Regions from separate parts of the Homo sapiens genome. Here regions 2, 3, 4 and 5 are each reported to be linked to region 1. The links are microRNA targets in miRTarBase. Many come from high-throughput screens and were not tested one by one. Region 1 holds a microRNA gene; each other region holds the end of a gene's coding sequence.
What was found. Region 1 holds the annotated microRNA hsa-miR-6864-5p (UUGAAGGGACAAGUCAGAUAUGCC, at 2,494-2,517, shown strand). A microRNA usually pairs through its seed, bases 2 to 8, with sites in the 3' UTR of a target mRNA and lowers its output. Matches are read on the target gene's strand: a 7mer-m8 pairs with bases 2 to 8, a 7mer-A1 pairs with bases 2 to 7 and ends in A, and an 8mer does both.

Region 2: the mRNA of RCOR1 is a reported target of hsa-miR-6864-5p. Seed matches in the 3' UTR shown: 7mer-A1 at 1,182-1,188 and 7mer-m8 at 2,192-2,198.
Region 3: the mRNA of SETD9 is a reported target of hsa-miR-6864-5p. The part of its 3' UTR that is shown has no 7-base or 8-base seed match.
Region 4: miRTarBase lists FRMPD4 as a target of hsa-miR-6864-5p. The part of its 3' UTR that is shown has no 7-base or 8-base seed match.
Region 5: miRTarBase lists RANBP10 as a target of hsa-miR-6864-5p. Seed matches in the 3' UTR shown: 7mer-m8 at 3,113-3,119.

Annotation. Positions count from the first base shown.
Region 1 is chr17:4,968,109-4,972,259 of GRCh38, reverse strand. It overlaps MIR6864 (microRNA 6864), which reads left to right and starts at 2,489; the gene lies at 2,489-2,558. CAMTA2 (calmodulin binding transcription activator 2) reads left to right here. Exons shown (of 23, transcript NM_015099.4): 16 at 1-28; 17 at 1,724-1,920; 18 at 2,175-2,358; 19 at 2,559-2,630; 20 at 2,740-2,760; 21 at 2,923-3,110; 22 at 3,279-3,353; 23 at 3,441-4,151. The coding sequence ends at 3,504. It overlaps MIR6865 (microRNA 6865), which reads left to right and starts at 2,110; the gene lies at 2,110-2,174. RefSeq lists enhancers at 2,689-3,365, 2,199-3,398, 3,366-4,043, 4,044-4,151.
Region 2 is chr14:102,726,045-102,730,044 of GRCh38, forward strand. RCOR1 (REST corepressor 1) reads left to right here. Exons shown (of 12, transcript NM_015156.4): 12 at 424-4,000. The coding sequence ends at 462. Among named protein-coding and RNA genes, the nearest start is that of TRAF3, 49 kb to the right of the region's middle.
Region 3 is chr5:56,916,675-56,920,674 of GRCh38, reverse strand. It overlaps SETD9 (SET domain containing 9), which reads right to left. Exons shown (of 6, transcript NM_153706.4): 6 at 3,327-3,860. The coding sequence ends at 3,773. MIER3 (MIER family member 3) reads left to right here. Exons shown (of 13, transcript NM_001297599.2): 13 at 1-1,072. Among named protein-coding and RNA genes, the nearest start is that of SETD9, 9.1 kb to the right of the region's middle.
Region 4 is chrX:12,721,391-12,725,390 of GRCh38, reverse strand. It overlaps FRMPD4 (FERM and PDZ domain containing 4), which reads right to left. Exons shown (of 17, transcript NM_001368397.1): 17 at 868-4,000. The coding sequence ends at 3,533. Among named protein-coding and RNA genes, the nearest start is that of PRPS2, 68 kb to the left of the region's middle.
Region 5 is chr16:67,723,113-67,727,112 of GRCh38, forward strand. RANBP10 (RAN binding protein 10) reads right to left here. Exons shown (of 14, transcript NM_020850.3): 14 at 1-3,446. The coding sequence ends at 3,316. Among named protein-coding and RNA genes, the nearest start is that of GFOD2, 5.8 kb to the left of the region's middle.

The DNA.
Region 1 (4,151 bases):
CAGCCCACAGGCTGTGGATGTGATCCCGGTACTGCTTATATTGATGGAGTTATGGGGGCTAGAAGTGGAGTAGGAAGGGTGAGGCCGACTTCCATGAAGCAGAATCAAAGTCTGGCTTCAGTTTAGGAAGGGCCTATTTACTTCATTTTGGGACAGGCAAGGTAGCCTTTTGCTTAGCTCCTTTTAGACCATGTGACTTGGAAGTCATGAGGCAGCGGAGGTTGAAAATTCTGGCTGGTCCCACAATACAGATGTTGGAAAAAAAAAATTTGGCCGGGCTTGGTGGCTTACGCCTGTAATCCCAGCACTTTGGGTGGCCAGGGCGGGTGGATCACTTCAGGCCAGGAGTTTGAGACCAGCCTGGGCAACATGGCGAAACCCCCTCTCTACAAGAAATACAAAAATTAACTGGGCACTGTGGTATGTGCCTGTAATCCCAGCTGTTTGAGAGGCTGAGACACAAGAATCACTTGAACCCAGGAGGCACAGGCTGCAGTGAGCCGAGACTGCACCACTGCACTCCAGCCTGGGTGACAGACTGAGACTGTCTCAAAAAAAAAAAAAAAAAGACAAAATAGTAAGATTTAAAATATAAAAAGCATTAAAAAATATTCTGGCTGGGTGCGGTGGCTCACCCCTGTAATCCCATCACTTTCAGAGAACGAGGTGGGAGGATCACTTGAGAACAGGGGCTTGAGACCAGTCTGGCCAACATAACAAGACCCCATCTCTACACAAAATAATTTTTTAAAAATAGGCATGGTGGCACACACCTGTAGTTGTAGCTACTTGGGAGGCTGAGGTAGGAGAACCCCTTGAGCCCAGGAATATGAGGTTGCAGTGAGCTGACTGTGCCATTGCATTCCAGCCTGGACAAGAGACCCTGTCTCTATAACAAAAATTCTAGGGAATATCTTCAGTTAGAGCTGGTTTGTAGGAGTTAACCGTTGATCTATGTAGGGACAAGGTTCTAGGAGAACCAAGATGACGGAGGGCAGCTGGGAGTTGTGTGGAGAGGTAAGGCTGGCAAGATGAGGGTATTTGGCAGTGATCTGATGCAGGAAGGAGGCTTGCACATGATAAAGCTAAGAAAGTCTTGTGGAATGAAAGTGAATCTTCAAGTATAGCCTTGTACTTCTCTGATAGAGACTGGGGACATACCTGCTTTAGAGAGACTAATGGAGTAAGTGGGTGGCACTTTAAGTACAAAAAACTTAGGGAACTCCACAAGTAGGTTGTGTTGAGTGTGTCCAGCAGGAAGTGCTGGAGTATAGGCTTCAGGGCTGGAGCAAAGGCCAGACTGGAGCCATTCATCCGGGTAGTAGTTGGCAAGTGTTGGAATGGTTCTTGGAGAGTTGAAAGGGAGCTGGGGGTGGGCACAGCCAAGCCTATGGGGAGCATGTGCTGGTCAGCTGGCATGGGGCAGGCCCAGGTAGGACAGTGGATGGTTGGCCTGAAAGGGTGTCAAGTCCTCCATTTGTTCAGCTTTGAATCCCCACTTGGAGTATCTCCTTTTTATCCTATATTCTCCATAGCATCTCAGCACAGAGGGACCCCCAAGTGGGAGCCCCATCAGTATAAATGAATGAGTCTGGAACAGTGGCCCAGAAAGACAGGGTTAGCAGCACCTGGCAGGGAGAGAAGGAACAAGATAGGAATGGACTGAGGTTACAGCTGGCAGCTGGGGCCCCTAAGGACTCACTCAGCTTCTCCCTTCTTCCAGGTGGACATGATCTCACTAGCCAAGCAGATCATCGAAGCCACACCGGAGCGGATTAAACGAGAGGACTTCGTGGGGCTGCCCGAGGCTGGAGCCTCAATGCGGGAGCGGACAGGGGCTGTGGGGCTCAGTGAGACCATGTCCTGGCTGGCCAGCTACCTGGAGAATGTGGACCATTTCCCCAGCTCAACCCCTCCCAGGTGACTAGCTCAGGACAAAGCCTCCAGATTCTTCAAAGGAAGATGGGAGGAAGGGAGAAAGCTGGCTTTCCCACAGCCAAAGCTCCATTCTGGCTGAGGCCCCAGGGCCTTGGAGAAGCGAACTGAACTGGCTGATGAACTCTGAAGTCACTCTCCAGACTCAGTTGCTGGTGGTTTTCCTTCGTAGCCATCCATAGGTGGCAGAGGAGGGACTTCAGATGCTTCATGACACCCTCTTTCCCTACCGCCTACAGCGAACTGCCCTTTGAGCGAGGTCGCCTGGCTGTCCCTTCAGCACCCTCCTGGGCAGAGTTTCTCTCTGCATCCACCAGTGGCAAGATGGAAAGTGATTTTGCCCTGCTGACACTATCAGATCACGAGCAGCGGGAACTGTATGAGGCTGCCCGAGTCATCCAGACGGCCTTCCGAAAGTACAAGGTCAGGGGCAGGGGTCTCAGGATGAATTACACAATCTCCAGTCAGGGGAGACTGGGCTCCCAGGGCTTTTGGAGGATGAGTAGTCGTGCAGACAGGCCTTGGATGGGGTAAAGGGTCAGGGGAACCCCAGGAAAGTTGAAGGGACAAGTCAGATATGCCATTATGTGGGTCATGAGGTGGTGAGACTTCTCTCCCTTCAGGGCCGGCGGCTGAAGGAGCAGCAGGAGGTAGCAGCAGCTGTAATCCAGCGCTGTTACCGGAAGTACAAGCAGGTGAGACCCTTCTCCCTCAAAAGTGTAACCAGCAACCCACCAACCCACACCCACGCCTAACCATTCCAGAATGTTGCCAGAGCCCTAACTCCCCTTCTCTCTCCACAAGCTGACCTGGATTGCACTTAAGGTATTAGGCATGAGCTCTGAGTGTGAGGTCTGTGATGATTCAGTCTTTCCTTGAGTGTGTGGGTTACAGAGAGTCTTGCATCAGCCTAACTTGGGTGAGCCTCAGGGCTTTGGGTCTCCGTCCCTCTATTTCAGCCCCTGTCCCTCCTCCCCACCCCTGCAGTTTGCACTCTATAAGAAGATGACCCAGGCGGCCATCCTGATCCAGAGCAAGTTCCGAAGCTACTATGAACAGAAGCGATTTCAGCAGAGCCGCCGAGCGGCTGTGCTCATCCAGCAGCACTACCGCTCCTACCGCCGCAGGCCCGGCCCTCCCCACCGGACTTCGGCCACCCTGCCTGCCCGCAACAAGTAGGGCCCAGCCCCAGCCCTCTGTGCCCACCCACTGCATCCACGCCATTCCCCCTTACTCATCCTCTTGATCATCATGCCTCACTGCCATTCCCTGCCTAGGGTTCCTGGGGGGGCCGAAGGCATGCGATGCCTTCTGTGAGGTCCATCTTTTGTTTCTTTCACCAGAGGCTCCTTTCTCACCAAGAAGCAGGACCAGGCAGCCCGGAAGATCATGAGATTCCTGCGGCGCTGCCGACACAGGTACTCATCCCTTCTCCCCCTGGGCTTTTGCGTTGCCACCCGTCGTGATCCGCCAGTCTCCTCTGACTCCTATCTTTCTCTCTGCAGGATGAGGGAACTGAAGCAGAACCAGGAGCTGGAAGGGCTTCCCCAGCCGGGACTGGCCACATGACCTGGCCACCGCCTTTCTCACCACCCTGGGGGCGCCTCGTGCAGTCTTAACAGGGAGAGGGCTTTCTGGGGCAGGGGGAGCCCCTGTCGGCAGCTTTCCTGTTCACCTTTGTTGGAGCCCTCTGTAGGCCTCCTCCCTCCTCCCCACGCCTTGCTCCCACACCCCTCTCCTCGTCCCTCCTGGTCGTGCCCCGTCTCTTTTGGTCCTGGCTCCAGAAAACCCGCGCCCCACATACCTGCATCTTCCGCTGTGACCTCCGGAGCCCTGCCTGCCCCTGCTCCCCAGCTCCTCCTGCCTGCACCCGACTCGGCCCCCTCCTGACTTGCCTTATTTATTTGTTCGACGCGTCTCTGAATGTATCCGCCTCGGTTCCCACCACTGCCTTCGCTGCGCACGCCCCTCGTGTTTCAGGGCTGACCGTGTCCCCACCCGACTCCGCATGTTTGCGTCTGTTTCCTCCCTCTCTGGCCCTGTCTTACCCCATCACCCGACTCTGGCCACTGACCTCAGGGCCGAAGGGGAGGTGGTGTACATAGGAACGCGTTGCGGAGTCCGCCCCGTCCCCCGAGGGGAGGGGTCTTGTACATACTGTAACATACAGAGTATAGTGAAGAATCTATTTAAGGCGCCGCGGGGAGGGCTGCACG
Region 2 (4,000 bases), not on the chromosome of region 1:
TGGGCTGGGCGTGGGGGCCCACACATGTAATCCCAGCACTTTGGGAGGCCGAGGCAGGCAGATCACGAGGTCAGGAGTTCGAGACCAGCCCGGCCAACATGGTGAAACCCCGTCTCTACTGAAGGTACAAAAATTAGCTGGGCGTGGAGGCAGGTGCCTGTAGTTGCGGCTACTTGAGAGGCTGAGGCAGAGGAATCGCTTGACCCAGGAGGCGGAGGTTGCAGCGAGCCGAGATAGCGCCACTGCACTCCAGCCTGGGAGACAGAGTGAGACCTGTCTCCCCTCCAAAAAAAAAAAAAAGAACTCGGTGTTTGCTCTGCAGGTTTGCTGGCTACCTTCTCTTTTCAGTACACTGGAAATAGCAGCTTGTGTTGTTTACCTACTCTTTGATCCTTTTTTTTTTTTTTTTCCTCTTGGCCTCAGGCTCCTGTTCTGGATGTCAGATATGCATCTGCCTCCTGAGAAACTGGTGGCTTTGAACACTTGGTGTGGACTACTGTGTTATCCGGGATATCAGGTATTATGAGACATCACCTAGCCATCTGCATCACATCTCTCTGGACAAGCAGCTATTACCAAAAAAGGCATATACTTCCAGTCCTGTGCTCCATCTGCCTTAATTCTTTGCTCGTTCCTCCATGTTGGCGCCACTTCCCAGAGAGCTCCACTGCATCTCACACTCTGCCCACGTGCTGGGGAAGTCTCACGGCCTGCACATCTCTTGTGACTCTGGGAACCGCCTCTCCCGCCGGAGCCCCCGAGCCCCACCAATGGCAGCTCTTCCCAGTCAGCAGCTTCAGAGCAGGCAGTCTCCTTGGAAGGCCCGACTCTGTTCCTGCATGGCCTGCAGTTTCTACTTTGTGCATAGAGTCATTTTCAGAGTCACCGCGACCCTGTTGGCCTTCTAGAAAGTTTCTTTTGTTCTTTTCTGAGACAACCACCTAAGTGATAATACGCTTTTTTGGAAACTAATATATATTGCCAGACTGCATCATAACCTTTATCATGCCAAGCATCCTGATGCAACTCACATTTCCCTAAACATGGGGTACAGTTATGATTTATAAATTGAGTTGGCTTAAATCTCCCTCTTCTCCCTTCCCAAGTGTTACAAAGATCATTTACTGCAACTGTCGTTGGACACTGTAGCTTAAAGGGAACGTGGACCTCAATGCTTTCTGCCTTCAACTTTTCAGCATTGTGACCCCAGGGTGGTTGCCACCCCATCTTTTCCTGACCCCCCCCACCCCCCCACCTCCAAGAGGTTCGGCCCACATCACTGTACCTGGTGCTTGTAAATTTGGAATTGGTGCCTTCTCCTTTTGGCAACCATGGTTATCAATCCTTTTTCTGTTTTAGTGTCTTATTTCTTCTTTCAAGTTATTTGCTAGCCAAAGATGACATCACTGAGATTAGGAGACAGGGGAGAGCTTGCTGCAGATTCTGACAGTGCAGATTTTAAATGTCAGGATATTAGAATAGCTGGCGCTGGTTTATGAAAGCTGCGCGTTGTTCCGCGTTCTCTCGGTGTGCCTGGCCTTTTATGTGGCACTCTGTATGTCAGTTTGTGTCCTTCATGTGCTGATGTGATTACACAAACACCATGCACTCTCTTTTCATATCAGAGTACAGGACAGAGAAGTGATCAATGTATTGGTCTAGTGAGACTGAGATGAAAAGAAATAACCTACAGAGTGGTCTGTAATGCCTTTTGGTTGGACTGGGAACAAGTAAAAATTTCTAATAAACATTTTGAGACTTCCAGAATCACTTTTGTTATCTTATCAGACCATGGGCCTGCTGAGGGTTGAGCAGACAGCCTGCATTCTAACATACCCTGTTCCCACCCCACGGCCATTCAGACTGCACTCAATACGCTGAAGTCGCTTTTGTTGTTGTTGTTGTTGTTTGCATCATTTGGATTTTTTTCCTGCTTTCAATACCAAAAAAATGCAGATGCTTTAAGGCCTAAACAGAATTCTGAAGAATTTAAAATATGCAATTAAAGTTTGATATGTTTTGTCTCCCAAGCACCTTGTTTTTTGTTGTTGTTGTTGTTGTTGAAGTCAGCTGATTTTCTCTTTAGAAAGAGGGTCAGCTAGAAACCTAGGTTTTTTGGAATTGTAAATTTTTTTTTAGTATAGTCTGGAGAGAAAGGTCATTCAAAAGGAAAGTACAATGGGACTTGCTGCCCTTCATCATCTCGTTCCCGTGCCAGGTGTGTGTTGGTCACGTAAAAGCCTGGGAAGCATCAGAGGAGTCCCGGATTGCTGCTGCTACCTGGAGACAGGGTTAGCAAAATAACACTAGTGATGAGGGAGAGGCTTCTTTTCACCATAAGCCTGCTGTGTACACCGAGGGCGGCAGGAGAAGCATGGGAAGGAGTCAGCCTAAGTTTGCACATTGCATAAAGGGTACACTAAGGTATGAGCTGAAGCTTTAGGTTCTCCGTGCTTCCCTCAAGACCTCCTTCTTGCTAACAGAAGCAGTAGGCAATTGCTGCAGTGCGTTTCTCACCCTGCCAATAGGTCTGTCTGTATCTCTGTTAAGGAAAATAGCCTGGTCCCTCCTGGCAGTGCTTGGAAGCTTGATGCTAATTTTTATATAGCGTGGCAAACTGACCAGCAGTGCCAGGCCTTGATCTGTATTCTGCACTATCCCTTTACTTGGTTCCTGGCACTGAATGGTCTCCAGCCCTGAAGAATCACGTGTGATCACAGCAGCTGACCTGGGCTTTCTCCCCGAGAGGAAGGGGCATGTCATTTTTATTTGACAGAGGGAAAATGGGAGCTGTCCTTGACTGCCTTTGTTGTGCTTTCCCGCGTAAGATAGCACTGTGTTTTAAACTGTTGCATTACACTGTCTTTGCAATGATGTAAATGTAAGAAATCACTTAGCTTTAAAAGCGCAGTGGTTTGATCTTATTTATATGAAGACTTTTTAACATATCAAGAATTAGGTGCATTGGCAGGTAGGGTTTGGGGTGTGATAACTGCTTCAGATGGAATGTTCACTTAAGCTTTGTCTTCTTAAAAATTATCAATGTGAATGTCATAATTATATATATTTTTGTGGAAAATTTTCTCCTAAGTATAAGTTATTGTGCAAAATATAGTGTCATTGATGCAAATAATAGTTTAACTTTTAGTTTAGAACTCCTAAAAGATATAAATTGTATTGCATATGCATTAAAAGTTTGTTTTATTTAATTTTATGTAGATGTGTGAAGTGTTAGGTAAAATTTTTTTCACTTATCCATTTAAACACCTTGTTACTTGAATATTGTGTTGACTGGTCTGCAACAGTGATCCATTCTGTAATATAGCTCTTTTAACTGGGAAGGAACCACACCCCAGTTGTGCCGATTACATTAGTGTTGGCACACAGTCGGGTGCTAGTGTAACACAAATGCCGCGTTGTCTGGGTGTACAGTGTTTGTGGAGACGCCACTTCCTCAAAATGGTTTTTGATTGTTTTTAACCTATAAGACGTTCTGATGCTCACAAACCTCTATTCAACACACAAAACAAACATGAAAAGGTAGTTAGTTGGGTTGTAACAGCTTACTGGGGTGGACTCATAAAACAGTGGCTTTCTGTTCATCTAAAGTTTCCTCAGATACCACAGACCACTGTTAAGTGTGCTCATTGTCACTTTAAATTTCAACGATACCCTATTTTTGTCATTCTAAATATCAGATGTACTATTGGTATAATTGCACACCAAAAATAAGCCAAACAGTGCATTACGCTAACTGGATCCCTGCTTTTATGTGAGCTAAGGAAAGATGGAGCCAACTCCAACGAGGGCCTCTTTTTCTCTCTTGTCTAGCCTGTTTCTAAACCGAATGATCCAGGATTCAAGCTTCTATTGTCAAGTGAAACTTTCCTCAGATGGACTCCAGGTAGCCAGGTCACCTAAACCTAGTGGTCCTGTGCGATGCTCTTTCTGCCAGTCCCTGAATCTCTGCAGCTTCTCTTACCTGTCTTACCTGTAGTAA
Region 3 (4,000 bases), not on the chromosome of region 1:
CTATTTATTGAATTTTCTTTTAAAAGCTGGATTTACTGGGTTTTTTTTTTCTCTCAGTTTAAACATCTTAACAGAGAATTTGTTACTGTTTATTAAAAGAATTGCATTTGGAAGCAAGAAAACAACCGGATTTGCAATCATGTGAAGAAACAATAATGCCTTTATTATCAAGTGTTAAGCACAATTCTTATAACAAACTGTGATAAATTCTTTTTGTTTTTTTTTCCTTTGCCCCATTATTTTCTTATGAACAAACCAAAAATTCATGGTGAGCAGTTGCAGTGTTGGCTGATATATCTTTTATGTACAGGGAATTTGAAAAGGACAGTGGATTCATTTAGAAGTGTAACTGGTGCTGTGATTATAGCAATACATTTGTTAGTTGTACTTCATCTTTTTCATGCTAGCTTTTTAAATGTTTAGTTTTCCTCTTGTCATGGTCAGCTGCTGAATTTACTTGAAGGATGTAGAATACTGTTTAAAAAATACTAAAATTTGTACAATTAGATCAAAGAATTGTGCAATCATTTCCTTTTTAATTTTTAAAATGTTGAGGCTCATAAATATTTGAGAACATCAGATCTAATAGAGCATAGTGATACTATTTAATTTAACCAAAGTCTCTAGTGAATATTTCAACTTTGAATGTAAACTAACAAATAAACCTGACCACCAAGGAGATTGTTTGCCCAGAGTTTCAAAGCACATTGTCTACAAATGGAAATTGAAATAATTTATAAAATATTGACGTTACTATGTTTTTTAAAAAGTTCCTAATTTTTTCACTAAATGGAGGAAACTATTAGTTTTATTGTTAAATATGGTAGATATTAATATTCCTCTTAGATGACCAGTGATTCCAATTGTCCCAGTTTGAAATAAGTACCCTGTGAGTATGAGATAAATTAGTGACAATCAGAACAAGTTTCAGTATCAGATGTTCAAGAGGAAGTTGCTATTGCATTGATTTTAATATTTGTACATAAACACTGATTTTTTTGAGCATTATTTTGTATTTGTTGTACTTTAATACCTGGTGTACAGTTCCAGAAATAAAAATCTGGGAATCTTTTTTTCTTGGTTTGTGTGAATATTTGCCAAAAATACAGATATTTTATTTAATGAATCTTAAGCTACAGCAAATAGATAGATATTATACCACTGTTAAATTGGTTTTAGATGCAGTAAATAAGATATATGATAGATAGTGAAGTTGGTAGATTAAATATTTTCCTTAAATCCTCTATAATTTCCATCTATAATAAAAGTCCCCCTGTAATCCCAACACTTTGAGAGGCCGAGGCGGGCAGATCATGAGGTCAGGAGTTCAAGACCAGCCTGACCAACATAGTGAAACCCCGTCTCTACTAAAAATACAAAAATCAGCCGAGCGAGGTGGCGCATGCCTGTAACCCCAGCTACTCAGGAGGCTGAGGCAGGAAAATTGCTTGAACCCTGGGGGTGGTGGTTGCAGTGAGCTGAGATCCTGCCATTGCACTCCAGCCTGGACAACAGACTGAGACTCCATCTCAAAAAAAAAAAAAAAAAGAAGTCCCAAAGTAAGGATTATACTTTTAGTTTAATTCAGGAAACATTTATTATGTTTCAAACGCTGTTCTAGGTAACTGTCTTTTATGAAGACAGACAGATCTGAAATTTGGTCAAATATTATTATTATTTGACAGACTACATTTATGGTCAACTAGTCTTCCTTATCCATACGATTCATAGTTTGACCGTAGTCATATCTATCTTTCCTAAACATCTTTTTAAGCTAAAGCTCCTATCTTGCCATTATTTCACAAGTTTGTCCCCATATTTCATTTCCTCTGACCAGAGCTTTATGTAGTTCCATTTTTAAGATGCAGTGATCAGCTTGCCCATAATATCCAAAGTTTGTACAAGGCCAAGAAGGGGATAAAAGGAAAGCAAAAATCTTGACTCCTCTGCTTTGGTTACTTGACTAAAACCACATCCCTTCCTTGTCAGACACGAAAGGACCTTAGCACATAGGGCTCTGTGGTGGACACATGCACAGAAGTGCCTTCAGAGCAGGGACAAGCACACATATTCCGAATACAGCAAGAATGCAACAATGTGCCATGTGAGAGCTCAGAGTATTTTCAGGCTTTAGGAGACGGAAAAGCCTGTGGAAGCAGGATAATCTAGTACATCTGTTACTAGAAGTCATTTTGGCCATAATTTCCATCTATGGTACGCTTTTTGAGCTTGCTGGTGGTAAGTGCTAAAGAGAATGAGGAATATGTCAGGGTTGGGAGCAGTGAGGGATTGTAAATTTCAGTGGGGTGATGAGGCAACGCTCCTCACTGAGGTGACAGGAAGGGAGAGAACAAGCTATGTGGCTGTCTGGGGGAAGATGTTTACAGGCAGAGAGAACTAAGTGCAAAAGTCCTTGGTTGGGAATGTGCCTGGCAGGTTTGGGGAGTGGCCAGGAGGCAGGTGTGGGTTGGGATGGAGTGAGCAAGGGGAGAAAGGAGAGGAGCTCTTGAGGTCATGAGCAGGTTATGCATGTGAAGGACTTCAGCATTTACTCCATGATAGGGAGAGGGTTTTGAGCAGACGTATGTCAATACCTGACTTTCATTTAAAAGAATCACACTTGGTGATATGTTCTGTAAGGGGGACAGGAGTGGAAACAAGGAAGGCAATTGAGAGGCTACTGAAATTGCAATAAACTAGGTGAGTAAAGCTGGTGGTAAGGAAGTGAAGGTAATCAGAATCTGGTCATATAGGTTCCATGAATTTTTGAGGGATCCAGTAAAGAACACCCTCCTTCCTATCCAAGTTTGGAACTGAGAGAGCTGGAGTCAGGTCGATGGAGGTCAAAGTAACTATTGCTAATAAAACGGGAAGGTAGCTTCAGGGCTGCAGCCAGGTTGGCCTGCCAATATATTACACCTCTGGACTCACTCTGTCACTGGCTGGGCTGGCTACAGGCTATTCTCTGCACAAGGCAGAGAACTGCCAGGACACATTCTTTCTGCTGGCAGCCAGAGTCCACAGGGAAGGAACTAGAAGGGTATATAGGACATGGGTGCCTAGTTATTCTCCAAACATAATCAGGGAGTCAATCTCCCTCCAGTGGGTGGAGAGAGAGGCTAGGAACATTAACCAGTGGAAGCCCTCCACATGAAGACATGAGACACGGGGAATAAGTGTTCCTCCCACCAACACTATCTTGCACTTTTTTTCCACCTTTTCTTTGGTGTGAAAATGTTCAAAGAGTAAAGAAAATAGTAATAATGACCTCACATTTTCCCCTCAGCCAGCTAGAGCAATCTTTACATTATACATAGACACACCAATTTACTCATGGCAACACAATAGGTATTTTTTACTCAATTCTGTAAAAATAAAGTTTTTACAGAAGTTTGTACACATCAGCAGTACTACAAGAACTGCTGATGCCTGGCTACAATTTTATAAACCACCACAGAGCTTACAAAATAAACAAAAGAAAAATTGAAATTATAAGTTCAAAGAGTAGGTTTTAATTTAATAAGCTATTGTGTATTTAGGTGAAAACCAATTAAACTTGGAATTGCATTACAAATTTGAAATTGTAATGAAGCAAGTAGCTTTTATCATGAAATTGGAACATAAATATAATATCAACAAAAACATAAGAAATTCCTATTCCAATTAAGTCTCAAAATATTTGTTTTACAGGTAGAACTCAGAGAAGTGATTAACAAAAAACACTTAGAATTAATAGCTGAGTAGAAAACCTAATAATTTCTGATTCACAGAGTTAGCTGACAATTGTGTAGTAGTTTGAAAAAAGCTCTTCTCCTTGATTGATGTCCCTAAGTGCGACAAGAACAACACATCGAAGTGGGCTGAAAACAAAAAGATATACAAAAGGTAGAGCATTAACAAATATAAGCTCATATTTTTAATATAACCAAGATGGCTTTTATAGAGGTAACTTTACTCAGGTTCCTTCCATTTTAGTTTATGCATTTGATTTCCATGAGGA
Region 4 (4,000 bases), not on the chromosome of region 1:
GCTAGGGATTTCAGGCTTTTCTGGAAAATAATTTCGTTTGTGATTAGACTAATTTCTGCTGAGCTTAAGGTTAGTGGGATCTGTGTTAATTTTAATGTCTCGGCAATTGCATTCATTTTTTGATTTTTTTTTTCTTGAAGCTAATGCTGTGTGGTTGTTGATCTGAGTACTCTGTCCTTCCACATCAATCATATCCCTTCTGACGAATTCACTTATGTGAAATAGGCTGGGACTGACACTTAGGTACGAGGGCAACTGTGGTCAGAACAACTCTCTGAGCCAAAAGCAAAGCTCATAAACCAATAAAATACAAATAACTTTACTATATAATACAGTAAAGGATGGAATGAAGAGCCCCTAAATTGTGGACAATGGTTATCTTTGGAAGTTGGGTTTAAGGGGATTATTACTTTCTCCATCATTTATTTCTGTAATGTTTATTTGATAATATTAAGGAATTCCCAATTTTTAAAATGCAAAAACGTCATTGTGGTTATGTTTAAAAGTTCTCACAGGATATTCTTACTGAAATATTCATGGGCTAAGCACTATGATGTCTGGGACTTGCTTGTAAATCATACAGTGGGAGAGGAGGTGGGTAGAAATACAGAAAATAAGATTAGACATGAATCGGTAGGTAATGAGTCCACATGAATTCATACGATTGTGTCTACTTTTGTTTGAAAGATTTGTGATAAAAGATTAATAAAAATGGTAGGAGATAAACTTGGCAAAGTAGACTGGGGACTAAACATAAAGAACCGTGAGTATAAGGAAGGTTTATTCTCCAGTTCAGTGCTCTCCAGATTTCAGTGAATGCAACCCTACCTGCGACAATATTGTCACATGCATGCACCAGGCATATGCTTATTTATTCATTCATTCATTTATTTATTTAAAATTATGTACATGTACCATTGTACTATTATGCCATTATAAAACATACACAAACATAAAAAAGCTAGATAAAAATAAGCACAAGTATTGTTCTAATATGTTCTTCCTACACTCTATGGACCTGGACCCCAGTTAGGAGCCCCATGCTTAGTGAATGTGGGGGCCCCTTGAGGTTTTCTGAATAGCAAAGAGTTTATTTATAAGAAACAGAAACTTACTGGCGCAGTAATGGGAGGTTGATTAGAAGGACCCAGAGCTACTTCCCTGAGGCTTCTCAAAGAACTCCAATGGACTGGGAAGTTGTTCTAACTAGATACGTAACTTGAACAAGGATGGCCACTTCCTTGTACACTTCTTTTACATATATGCAATACACATAATGTGTTCTGCACACAGTCAGGATACAATATGCATATAAAACAAACATTCCCCCACATATTATCTTGGGCAATATATTTAACACAACGATTATGATGATAATAATAGCTAACATTAATTGAATACTTACTCTCTGCCAGGTATTGTGGTAAGAACTTTACATACACATTTTTACTCAAAACTCATGACAACCCTATGGAAATCGATCTTATAATTGATTTTCATTTTATTATGAGGAAATTGAGACTAGAAAAAGTAGCTTTCCCAACATAAAAGGGCTAGAAAATGGCAGAGTCAAAATTTTAATCAAGATGTTTCTGACCCCAAACCCCATATCCGTAAGAACTCATCCATATTGCCTCCAGAGAGAATAGTGTCCAAACCAGCAGATTGTTGTGATGATTAAATGAGATAATATAGTTAATATGCTTAGCACACTGTCTGACATAGGGCACACATCCTATTAATAGGTTAGGATTTTAGTACACAGAATGATATTTACTAAGATTTTCCACAGTAAACACCACTAATATCTCTCAATATCAAAACACCAATATTTATAATTATAATTGTAATGAAATAATGTTTTATTATTTAGTTAAACATTATTTATAATAACACACACCTAAACTCCTTTCCTTTGCTGCCATCCATAACCACGTGCGGCTTTTGTTGTTGAGTCCCTGTGGAATGGCTGACTAGAGAGAGATTGCAATTGTGGACTGTGTTATGACTCCTTCTCAGCAGGCTACAAAAGTAGAAATATTTGCACCTGGTGTACTCCCATCATGTTCTTAAGGAGCCACCTGTCTAAGTAGGAGTGCATGTAACTTGAGCACTGAATGACCCAGGAAATACATATATACATATCGATTTTATTTTATGACTGCAGGGTACTTTTAGAGATGTGACAGTCCTGGAAAGTTCTTTGCATTCCATTGGTTTCACTTGAACTGGTCAAATATACCACTTCCATTTCTTTCTTTTTTTTTTCAGATTTCATATTTTTATCAGCCAATCCAGATTAAGTATTTATTTAATAAATACTTAACTATTTACTCATGGCTCCCATGATTACAGTAGCCATCTCTCCCTGATTTTCTGGAACATCCAAGATTTGAGATTTTGTCCCAGTACTACGCTATAATTCCAAATTTGACTGGCAGCCTTAGCCTCTGTAGAGGCGGTGATGCATGAAGCCCTATGCTGAGAGCTGTGATCTGAGATGAGACTCACAGGTGCTGGTGTGTGGTCTGGTCTACATTACTGAATCTGTACTTAATTTTGATGATCATTAAATGTTCCTTTTTTTAAGTTTGCAAATACTTTACTAAATGTCCTATCACTCTAAAGGGAATTTTAAGTTTCGTAGTTGAGTTGGGATGAGGGGAAGATAATGTCTTTGGTTTGCAGATTTTTGACATTTAGTCAAAGCAGATCTTTCCATCAAATAATTAATTTTGGTATTATTAATTCCATACATTTTATGTAATGAGATATTCTATAACTCTAGGTGTTACCTAGGAAACTGCCCATCATCCCCTCTGTTCTTCTCCCCGGGAAGTTTTTTAAATGCTAGAACCACTGTGAAGAGCATTTGTGCTGACACAGTAGAATCCATCCCCACCAATTTGTAGCCCCAGTAGCAAAAACCCAAATTAAATATGTGGGATTCTTGGAAGAAAGCATCCAGTAACCAAATACTATGAGCAAAAAATTAATTTATTACAGATATATTCTCTAGTAATTCATAATAGCTTCTTGAATTTTAAATGTCTTTTTGCTATTTCCAATGCTTAAAAATCATAATTTTAAAACATAAGTACTGTTTTATATACATTGTGATTTCTTTTCTTTTCTCTCTCTTTTTTGTTTTGTGTTTTACTTCTAAATATGAATGATATGGTTTCCAAGTAGCTACTTGGAAAGAAAGGGGATAGGATTCATTGTTTTGCTCTAACATGGTAGAATTTAAAATTTCACATCATATACCTGGAGTTTTAACTATATGAAAAATAGCCAAATGTCATCACTTTCTTGGATATTTCTTTTACGTGTATATATATGTATAATATAAACAGAATACATCTGATTAGTACATTTCAACATTTCATCAATGTGACTTTTATCTCCTATTTTATATAAAATAACAAAATATACAGAGAGAAGAAAGGAGACATCTGTTCATCATACACACAAAGTAAATAAAAGTTCATGTATGGCTTTGCAAAGGTAGATTATGACGTGACTTCCATATTTATTTGTTTAAAAGCCTCTTGAGAGAACGTGTCAGTGTGCTTACGAGAGCGGCCATGGTGGTTGAGTGTCGCGCCGAGAGTCCAACATTAGGGTCCCCAGGGTTCTTTCCAGTGGCTGCTTCGGCAGCTTTCAGTAGACAAATGTAATTTATGACCACTTCATCGATCTTCCCTACAATTTCCTGCCGCTGTGTTTCTGAGTTCACGACTTTAACTAATCGCATGCAAGCTTCTGTTAGGCAACAGAGCACTTGAAAGCTGGAAGTCATAGCTAGGAGCATCTCCTCCGGGCTTTTCTCAGCCATCGCCATTTTCCTACAGGCACTTCCCAACTGTCTGGACTCAATGGATAACAGTTGCTTGTACTGAGAAAGTGTAAGGTCGTACGCTTCAGGGCGTGACTCCTCCCTCTTCTCCTTGGTTGCCCTGACGAGACAGAGCAGCTCATTGGCATCATTTTGGGCTGC
Region 5 (4,000 bases), not on the chromosome of region 1:
ACAACAGAGTTTTTTTTTTGTCTCTCAAGTACAATTTTAATAAGATGTTTTGTGTTAGAGTTCTCTCTCCATCCTCCCACACCCACAAGTTTCATGCTAATGCCAAGTATCAACTCTTGAGGACAAAGGCAAAACCAGTGTGCACAATGTGGAGGATGTCTGTTGCAGCTGTAGTTACTAATGCAGGAAAACCCAATGCAAAGAGGAAAATGCCTGAGGCAGCCAGAGGCCACAATCTGGCCACAGGTCTGGGTGCATGAGACTGGCAGTCTAGTAGGGCTCCGCTGCCTGGCTGCCACATGGGTGCATACCTGAGTTGTGAGCAACCAAAGGAACTTTCAGCTCTGACAATTCTCTGCCTCATCTTCTTTGTGCTTGCTTAAGGAGTGGGAAGGCGCTAGGTGGCCAGGCAGTCCCCACTTCTGTCTCGTGGTGTCCATTTTGATGGCCTGCACCCAGCCACAGACCCATGAGGATGGGGATGGGGGTTCTGGCTTGCTATGAGTGCCAGTTTTTGCTCTGGAAGGAGTGACCATTTGGTGCCGCAAGGGGAAAGTGAGTAGGGAAGGCTGCTCCCCAGGGCCGGACAAACCAAGAAAGCCAGGTCTTCCTCCTGCCTCCATGGGTCAGGTCCAGCCCTTCACCAGGGCTCCCCCAGGTGCCTTTCCCACTCTAGGCTCCTGGAAGCAGGCTGGTAGGACTGGATGTGCATAAGGGGCACCTCTGGCTGGCAGGCAGGCAGGCCTGGACTCTCAGCAAGAGAGTGGGCTCAAGCAGCTTGGTTTTGGCCCTCTCCACAGCTTGTGGGGCAAAGGCTTATGTCCCAAAGGTGAGCTGCCCAACTGGGACAGAGAGCCCCTCTGGAGAGGAACAGAGTAAACAACTTGGACTCAGCTGAAACAGTGAGATAAGGCACAGAAAATGGGGAGGTGGCCATGGGTACCAAGTGCGAGCCAGGCAGACACCCAACCCCATGCAGCACACAGCTGTCCCGAGCCCTCCTGGGCCCTCTCAGCCACTCCACAACCTAAGCTCAGGCACCCGTCCTCATCCCTGACACACCCCTGAAGGTAGCAGCTTCTCAGATACTGCTGGAGGGCACATCAGCCTGACCCCTCATGGGGTTTATCTGCCATTCGGTTTCAGGACTAAATAGTGTTGCCCAACCCACAGGGATAAGGGATAGTCCCGGCTCTGCTACTAATTTGCTATGTGACTTTAGCCAAGTCACTTAATCTCCTGGGCCTGTTTCCTTATTTGTAGCAAGAGAGGAATGGGGGAGATGTTCACTGAACCCCATTCCAGCTGCAAAAGCCTGTGGTTTTAATCCAATCCTGCTAGGCTATGATCATTTAAACAGCCTGATGTCTCCAACTTCTGGGTTTGGGAGCTAGGTAGCCCCAGGCTGTCACAAGAGATGAATTTCCTTTACAGACAGGACGCCTCCTAACAGGCCATGGTCTATGGGTCTGCCAGCCCCAAGGACCAAGAAAAAGCAGCAGCTATAGGATCATTTCCCAAGGCAGAATTCTGACAGCACAGGGCCCAGGGCCCTGGCCCCATCACCAGCAGTTGGTCCAATTCAAACATTTTTCTTGTTGCCCAGCTGTGGGCCCAGTGAGGCCTGGTGAGCAATGGGTATCTCAGGCCACACCAACCATTCCCATGTCCACCAATATGGAGCAGGAGCTTGCAAAGCCCAGATTCAGGCAGGGACTGAAAGTTCAACTTCCGGCCTTGCCATGGCTGACCCTACTCTTTGCATGGGCGGCTTGTGCACTCCCCTCACAATGTGAAGCACATATGGAAATTCCAGCCGTCCTGGTGCTCCTCTGTGTAGACTTCCTCCCTTTCCTCCTCCAGGGCAGCCAGTCCTCTCCACAGGTGGGCCACCCCAAGTCCTGGCAACCATCTCAGTCTTTCCTTTCCTGATTCCCCAATGGTAGCGGGACCACTTTTACTCTGCCAGCTGTAAGGATCTATCTGAAACAGCTGGTGGGACATGTGTAAAGCTGATAGAGTCCCATTCTCTGGCCAGCAAATACTCCCAATAGTCTTTCCTAAGAGTGGCTAGGGCCCAGCTGCAGGGAGCTGTCTGGCACAGTGGCAGTGAAGTCTGGCCTAGGGGACCAAGGATTCCATCCACTCCCTGGAGTAGCAGCCCAAGAACCTGCCTCCACAAGGTACTGGTTTCTCAACAGAAAGCATCCATTCTCTCAGAGCTGTGCAGAGATGGTGAAGATCTAGGCAGGAAGAAAGCAGCCCCTGTACTCAAGGGCCTCTGTCCTGGGAATGGAGTCTTCTTTCCAGCAGCCTGACACACAGAAGCTCTCAGGACGAAGGCAGGTAGTTTCCAGGCAATCAATTTAGAGTAAATGTATTATTTGGCCATCTTAACAACAAGGGAAGATAGGGTATTGAAAAGGGAGGAAAGGGGAGCAAGGCAGGCAGTGGGAGGTGGGGTAGAGTGGTAGATAGTGTGCTGGCCAAGGACCCTCTACCTCTGCTGTGTGGCCCTGGGCCAAGTTATCACTTCTCTGGACCCTTGGCCCTGTAGTTCTCTGCTCTGTCCAGCTCTCAGGGGCCTAGGGATCTACAGTTCTTGGGATGCTATAAACCAATGTAACCATGCCCACTAAGTGGCCCACCAAACCCTATTTGGGTTTCCTAGGCTGCAGCTCGGCCTGTGACTCAAAAAAGGGGGAGCAAAAAATAAATCACTTGGCTGAGGTGACAGAGATTCTTCTTTTTTAATGAGTTGGACTCAAAGAAAACATGGTGCCTGGACAGCCTCACCCAAGAGGTGCTGGACCACTAATGCTACGATAAATACTGTCTTTTTTTTTAATATATATATTTTTATATATATATATATAATCTCATTTGTTTTTTACTTATGAAAATAATAAGCTATCACCAACTTGGATAGGCTTCATCACTAAATTAGCAGAAACCAGCTCAGCACAAACTCTCCAGAGATAAATACTGGTGGCTCAGTCAGGAGAAAAAAATTTAAAAACCCCAACCCCTCCTCAAAACAAAACCCCCCTTTCAAAATAGAAGGCGCTACATGAGAGTAACCAGCCAATACTGTGTTACAGGCCGCTGCACGTGAAGGGGAGAGAGAGAGAGACTGAGCGGGGTGGTGGGCAGAGAAAGGAAGGAAGGAAGGAAAGGGAGAGGGGGAAAGGCCAGGCAGGAGGAGTGGACTCTGTCTATGGTTTCCCAGTCCCTGCACCAGTTGCCTATGGAGGGCAGGGCAGCTCCAGCCCTGGGGCCAGTGGAGGGCCAGCCAGAGCCAGCCAGCACAGTCAGCTAGTGCAAGTAGTCATCAACTCTGGCAAAGGAGCAAGAACCCAGGCCTGCTCGGGCCATGAGCCGGAGACACTCAGATGCCTGGCCCAGGGCGAGCATCAGAGGGGGCTGCTTTGGCAGGTTCTGGGACTCTGTGGAGGAAAGACAAGGCCTGGTCACTGGCCTGCCCAGGGCTTGGGCCCAGGTCAAAGTTCCCTTGGGGGTGGAAGGAGGGGGCAGTGGACAGATTCTCTTGGAACAGAGTGTTCAGTACCTCTGTGTAAGTGTGTCCCAGCCACCAGGCCATGGCCCTGAAGTCATGCCAGGAACCTGAGGACCTTAGCCCCATGTAGAGCGCTGGGCTGGCCTGGGCCTACTGCCATGGCCTAGGACCCATCATGAACTCAGCTGGGCAGACAGAGGTCAAGGTTTAGGTTCAACCATGGGAGCCCAGGAGTCCTATGAGTCACCAGAGAGGGCCTGTACAGAGCTTGCTGCCCCAGTGTGGATAAACATCAGCTCTTTCTGGGGCCAATTGGGGTGGGGGTTGGGAACCACCCAGGTAGCTATGGGCTAGCTTCTGTTTTTGTTAGATCCACTCACCTAGGCCAGGCATGGTGGCTCACACCTGTAATCCCAGCACTTTGGGAGGCTAAGGCGGGCAGATCACCTGAGGCCAGGAGTTCGAGACCAACCTGGCCAACAT